2 separate regions of the Homo sapiens genome follow, and region 1 is linked to region 2. The links come from fine-mapping of genetic effects on gene expression. A gene starts in region 2. The other region holds a variant in brackets. All regions are shown on one strand. Distances are between the middles of the regions. Region 1 overlaps LOC105376126 (a long non-coding RNA gene). Region 2 holds the start of GAS1 (growth arrest specific 1).

Region 1 (2,807 bases), 330 kb before region 2:
TTAAGGCTCTCACAGTTATCTAAATCCATTTTCTTGCCTTATAATTTTATGGTTAGAAGCATTACAGTTGTTTTTAGATTTTCATTATAACTGCAGTAGCCACAGACGGAACCAAATAGTGTTTGTTTATTTGTGTGACAAATTATGCCCCTCAGCTAACTATACTGTGTAATTTGCATTGGGTGTGTGTTTTGTGAAAGAAGTATACATTGGTCTGAGGGTCTTTTCTTCTCTTTCCTCTATCTTCTTCCCAAAGCAGTGCTGATAATAGAAAATTGGAAAATAAAAGGCACATTTGTGTACTACACACACGCTTGACTTCAGATTCCACTCCCCACCATTGTAGCTGGGTAAACTTGGGAAAGTCAGCTTATTTCCTCAATTTTTTTTTCACACAGTGAACTTTGTTCTTTTAAAATACCTTATTTACAGATCATCAGTAGGGGAAGAGTAATTTAAAGTATTAGGAACTTCAGGCCAGGAGCAGTGGCTCATCCCAGCACATTGGGAGGCCGAGGGGGGTGGATCACCTGAGGTCAGGAGTTTGAGACCAGCCTGGCAAAACCCCATCTCTACTAAAAATACAAAAAAATTAGCCGGGCGTGGTGGCGCATGCCTGTGGTCCCAGCTACTAGGGATGCTTAGGCAAGAGAATTGCTTGAACCCGGGCAGTGGGCGTTGCACTCCAGCCTGGGTGACAGAGCGAGACTCCATCTCAATTAAAAAACAAACAAACAAACAAACAAATAAATAAATAAAGTATTAGGAACTTCAGTGTCACTTGAAGGTTGATTAGAAATGAAAATCATTTCTGATGACTTAGGTACTTCCCAGCTATGAAAACTCCTGTAGTTAGTCAACTCTGCCTCTCTGCTTTTTCTTTAATTTGTTATTTTTTTTATTGTGGAAGAATACATATAACATAAAATTGGCCCTCCTAACCATTTTTAAGTGTAGAATCCAGTGGTATTAAACACATTCATCAAGTTGTGCATCCATTACCTCCATCCATCTTCAGGACACTTTTCATCGTGTAAAACAGAAACTCCACACTCATGAAATAGTAACTCCCCATTTGTCCCTGCTTCAAGCCCCTAGCGACCGCCATTCTCCTTTCTGCCTCTCTGATTTTAACTCTTCTAGGTACCAGGTATAAATGGAAGCATACTGGATTTGCTTTCTGTGACTGGTTCTTTTCATTTAGGTTCATCTATGCTATAAGCTGTGTCAGAATTTCCTTCCTTTTAAGACTGGTTAATACAATATTCCATTGTGGTATATCTACACTGCATTTTGCTTATCTATTCATCTGTCAGTGCACGCTTGGATTGCTTCCATGTTTCGGCTATTGCGAAGAATGCTGCCATGAACGTGGGTGTACAGATATCTCTTTGAGGCCCTGCTTTCTATTCTTTTGGGGATATACCCAGAAGTAGCACTTCCATATCATATGGCAACTCAATTTTTAACCGTATGAGAAACCACCGTACTGTTTTCCACAATGGTTGTACCATTTCTTTTTTGTTTGTTTTTAACTTTTATTTTAGGTTTTGGGGTACAT[T/G]GAAAGGTTTGTTACATAGGTAAACTCATATAATGAGGGTCTGATATACAGATTATTTCATCACCGAAGAATTAAGCCCAGTACCCAATAGTTATCTTTCCTGCTCCTCTCCCTCCTCCCACCCTCCACCTTCAAGGAGGGTCATTGGACATTGCACTCCAGCCCTGGAAACAGAGCGAGACTCTGTCTCAGTTTAAAATAAATAAATAAACAATGTATTAGGAACTTCAGTGTCACTTGAAGGTTGATTAGAAATGAAAATAATCTCCGATGACTTAGGTACTTCCTAGCGATGAAAACTTCCGTAATTAGTCAACTAATTGACTAATTACAGGGTCTGTTGTTTCCTTCTTTGCATTCATAAGTTCTCATCATTTTGCTCCCACTGATTTGCATTTGAGTTCAAACAAGATAATTTCTGAACTCCTATTGCAAATTGCTAAATGCTGTCTAAATATCTACTAGAGATGATTAGAATGATGGTTAATAAGTGCTATATTTCACATCAGGTTAAAATTTCTTCCAAGATATCTTTCTTTTATCTGCATGTATAGAATTTAGATCTTAGCATGAATGGGGATGAATTTATATCCATCTGTCATCTGAGATACTCTATGTGAACAAGGACCACTGTTGATCTGGCTGACCATATAAAATATCAGATAACAAAACCTTGAAAACTCATATTGGGAGTGTATGCTTTTGTCTAGTGCTTCTGGTCCTTTTAAGCAGCCAACAAATTTGCATTGAGACCTTGCTGACTGTGGGTATCGGTGATTTTTGTCCATTGACGATTTTATCTTTAGTTGCTACTTCTTTGGTTTCAAAGAACTACATGTGACAAAAAGTGGCAATGTCTTAGGAAGTGGTTAAGCTGAGTTTATAAAAAAGGAATTGAAAATATGTAAACATTTAAGCAATTTGAATTGATTAGGAACTTGGATGGGGGTAGTGCTTCAGTTTAATATAACTCAAGAGTTCTAGATAAATCATAATTCTTTAGATGAAGGCTAGTTTGTTCTGGATTCCTGCTGAGATAAAATGATCATAAATTTACAAGTAAAGAATAATGTAAATACCTTAATGTCAAAGTATTGCTTTACAGTTCATACAATACTTCTCAGTAAGTTGTATCCTGAGAGATCTTGTTTCTGCTACATACCAGCTGATGACCTTAGCAATGACCATCAGGCTGTGGACCTTAATTTCCCCCACCCCGGTAGGGTAAGAGGCGTGGTCTGGGCTC
Region 2 (2,807 bases):
GCCCCAGTTAAGGTAGCTCGGAAACTCCCTCGCCGAGAAGGCAGAGGTTTCCTCTGCAGAGCAGCCTCCCTTAAATATACTGAGGGGCTGAAACTTACACTTTAATATAAACCTTTGGTGCGTGCCCATTTATTCCGTCTTCTGTCCTGTGACTGCGGCCAGGTGGTAATTGCTCGACATTCCTGAATATTTTTAATGCTAGTTAAATTTTTTCATTATTGCACGTGTTGCAAGCTTATCTTCCTAAGAAATTATTTCGGTTGATTGGATTTCGGTCTTGCAATTTGAAAACGATGCCTGGCGCACGGGCGGTACCTGCCAGATGGCCTAGCTGGGGCTGGGGGGTGGCGGGCGGGTTGTAAGCATCTCATCAACATCTCCCTAATAAAGTGTGTGCTTCTTTCTTGTATGCTTCTTTAAAACAGTTTCAGTCTCACATTTTATCTCTGGATTCTCCCCTTCCCCTCTGTGGTGATCAAGACCCAAAGACAGGGAGCCTGGAAGATAAACTGAGTTCTGAATCCAGTCGAAAGCACAGATGGGGGCCAGCGAGAATTAATAAAACTACAAAAAAAAAAAAAAAGAAAAAAAAAACAAACAAAAAAGGCCCGTGGCTGAGCCGGATGCAAACAGCTGCCCCTAAGCCCTGCCCGCTGGTTCTGTGCGCGAGCTGGGGCTGCATATCCGAGCCTCCTTAAGAGTAGGAGGAGCTCCGGGCCTCCGTCAGGCTCCCTAAGCCGTTCCTTTCAAGCCCTGAATGCCTGAATGTGAGCTGCCCACCACCCTCCCGCCCTCCCCCACTCCGCAACCCCACTCCAGCGGCTCGTAAAAAAAAAAAAAAAAACTTTCAACAACAACAGGCAGGACCAATAGCATCTCGAAAAGCCGGGAAAGGGGGCCGAGCAAAGGGCGAAAGAGAGTGGAGAAAGGAGAAAGCGGGCAGGCTCGGAGCGCGCGGGGCCGGGGCTCGGCGAGCCGGAGGAGCGTTGCTAATGTTTTTGTTTGTTTGCTTTTCCATGCATGCATAATGAGGGGGCACCGCGGCACCACGCGGGGGCTCCCGGCCCACTTTTGTATTTAAAGCCTCGCTGCTAACGAGTCTGCAGCCGGGCTCAGCGGATCCGCTCCCCGGGCTCTTGGTCACCCGAGAAGCTGCCGCCGAGTGAAGCCAGGGAGCCGCTCTCCGGCAGCGCCGACTTTCTTGTTCTCCCCGCGCTTCCCGGAAAGAGCTCCCCGGAGCTCTGCGGAGGCCGGGGTTGCCGCGGGCGGAGGGGGAGGGGACGCGGGGCGGCCGGGCCGCGGGAAGGCGGGCAGCGCGCGGACGCCGGGCCAGGAAGCGGCGCGATGCGAGAGACCGCGGCGGCGGTGGCGGCGGCGAGGCACTGAGCCCAGGAGGAAGGAGCCGCCGCGGCCGCAGCGCGAGCAGCCGGCACGGGGACAGCCGGCCGCACAACGGATCTGCAGGCGCGGAGCAAAATGCACCCGCCGCGCCGCGCGGTCCTGCAGCCCCGCCACGGCCCCGCGGCCCGCACCCCCCCGGGGCGACAGTGAGCCTCTCCCGCCACCACCGGGGGCCGAGCGGAGGGCTCTCGGGTGGGAGAGCGGGACCAGATCTCGACAGCTGTTCATTTCCAGGAAGCCACCGCAGCCAGAGCGAAAGGGGACCTTCTGCCACCAGCGGGGCATCAGCCAGCGGCGCGCATGGATTTATGAAGACACTCATGCAAGAAGTGGGCAGGACTTGGACAAACTTTTCCACCGGCTCCGCGTCCGCCGCTCCCCGCGCCTCGTCTCCTTTCCCCTCCTCTCCCGGCGGCCGCCGCTGCCCGCGATGGTGGCCGCGCTGCTGGGCGGCGGCGGCGAGGCCCGCGGGGGGACAGTGCCGGGCGCCTGGCTGTGCCTGATGGCGCTGCTGCAGCTGCTGGGCTCGGCGCCGCGGGGATCGGGGCTGGCGCACGGCCGCCGCCTCATCTGCTGGCAGGCGCTGCTGCAGTGCCAGGGGGAGCCGGAGTGCAGCTACGCCTACAACCAGTACGCCGAGGCGTGCGCGCCGGTGCTGGCGCAGCACGGCGGGGGCGACGCGCCCGGGGCCGCCGCCGCCGCTTTCCCGGCCTCGGCCGCCTCTTTCTCGTCGCGCTGGCGCTGCCCGAGTCACTGCATCTCGGCCCTCATTCAGCTCAACCACACGCGCCGCGGGCCCGCCCTGGAGGACTGTGACTGCGCGCAGGACGAGAACTGCAAGTCCACCAAGCGCGCCATTGAGCCGTGCCTGCCCCGGACGAGCGGCGGCGGCGCGGGCGGCCCCGGCGCGGGCGGGGTCATGGGCTGCACCGAGGCCCGGCGGCGCTGCGACCGCGACAGCCGCTGCAACCTGGCGCTGAGCCGCTACCTGACCTACTGCGGCAAAGTCTTCAACGGGCTGCGCTGCACGGACGAATGCCGCACCGTCATTGAGGACATGCTGGCTATGCCCAAGGCGGCGCTGCTCAACGACTGCGTGTGCGACGGCCTCGAGCGGCCCATCTGCGAGTCGGTCAAGGAGAACATGGCCCGCCTGTGCTTCGGCGCCGAGCTGGGCAACGGCCCCGGCAGCAGCGGCTCGGACGGGGGCCTGGACGACTACTACGATGAGGACTACGATGACGAGCAGCGCACCGGGGGCGCGGGTGGTGAGCAGCCGCTGGACGACGACGACGGCGTCCCGCACCCACCGCGCCCGGGCAGCGGCGCTGCTGCATCGGGCGGCCGCGGGGACCTGCCCTATGGGCCTGGGCGCAGGAGCAGCGGCGGCGGCGGCCGCTTGGCGC

The links. PIP is the estimated chance that this variant, and not a neighbour inherited with it, causes the effect.
Region 1: its variant is fine-mapped to the expression of GAS1 in whole blood (INTERVAL, PIP above 0.99).

The regions. Positions count from the first base shown.
Region 1 is chr9:87,271,854-87,274,660 of GRCh38, reverse strand. The region is part of intron 7 of LOC105376126 (a long non-coding RNA gene); the gene reads left to right. Among named protein-coding and RNA genes, the nearest start is that of LINC02872, 120 kb to the right of the region's middle. The variant T/G (reference allele first, on the strand shown) is at 1,562.
Region 2 is chr9:86,945,804-86,948,610 of GRCh38, reverse strand. GAS1 (growth arrest specific 1) reads left to right here and starts at 1,105. Exons shown (of 1, transcript NM_002048.3): 1 at 1,105-2,807. The coding sequence starts at 1,832. RefSeq lists silencers at 1,895-1,974, 2,045-2,114.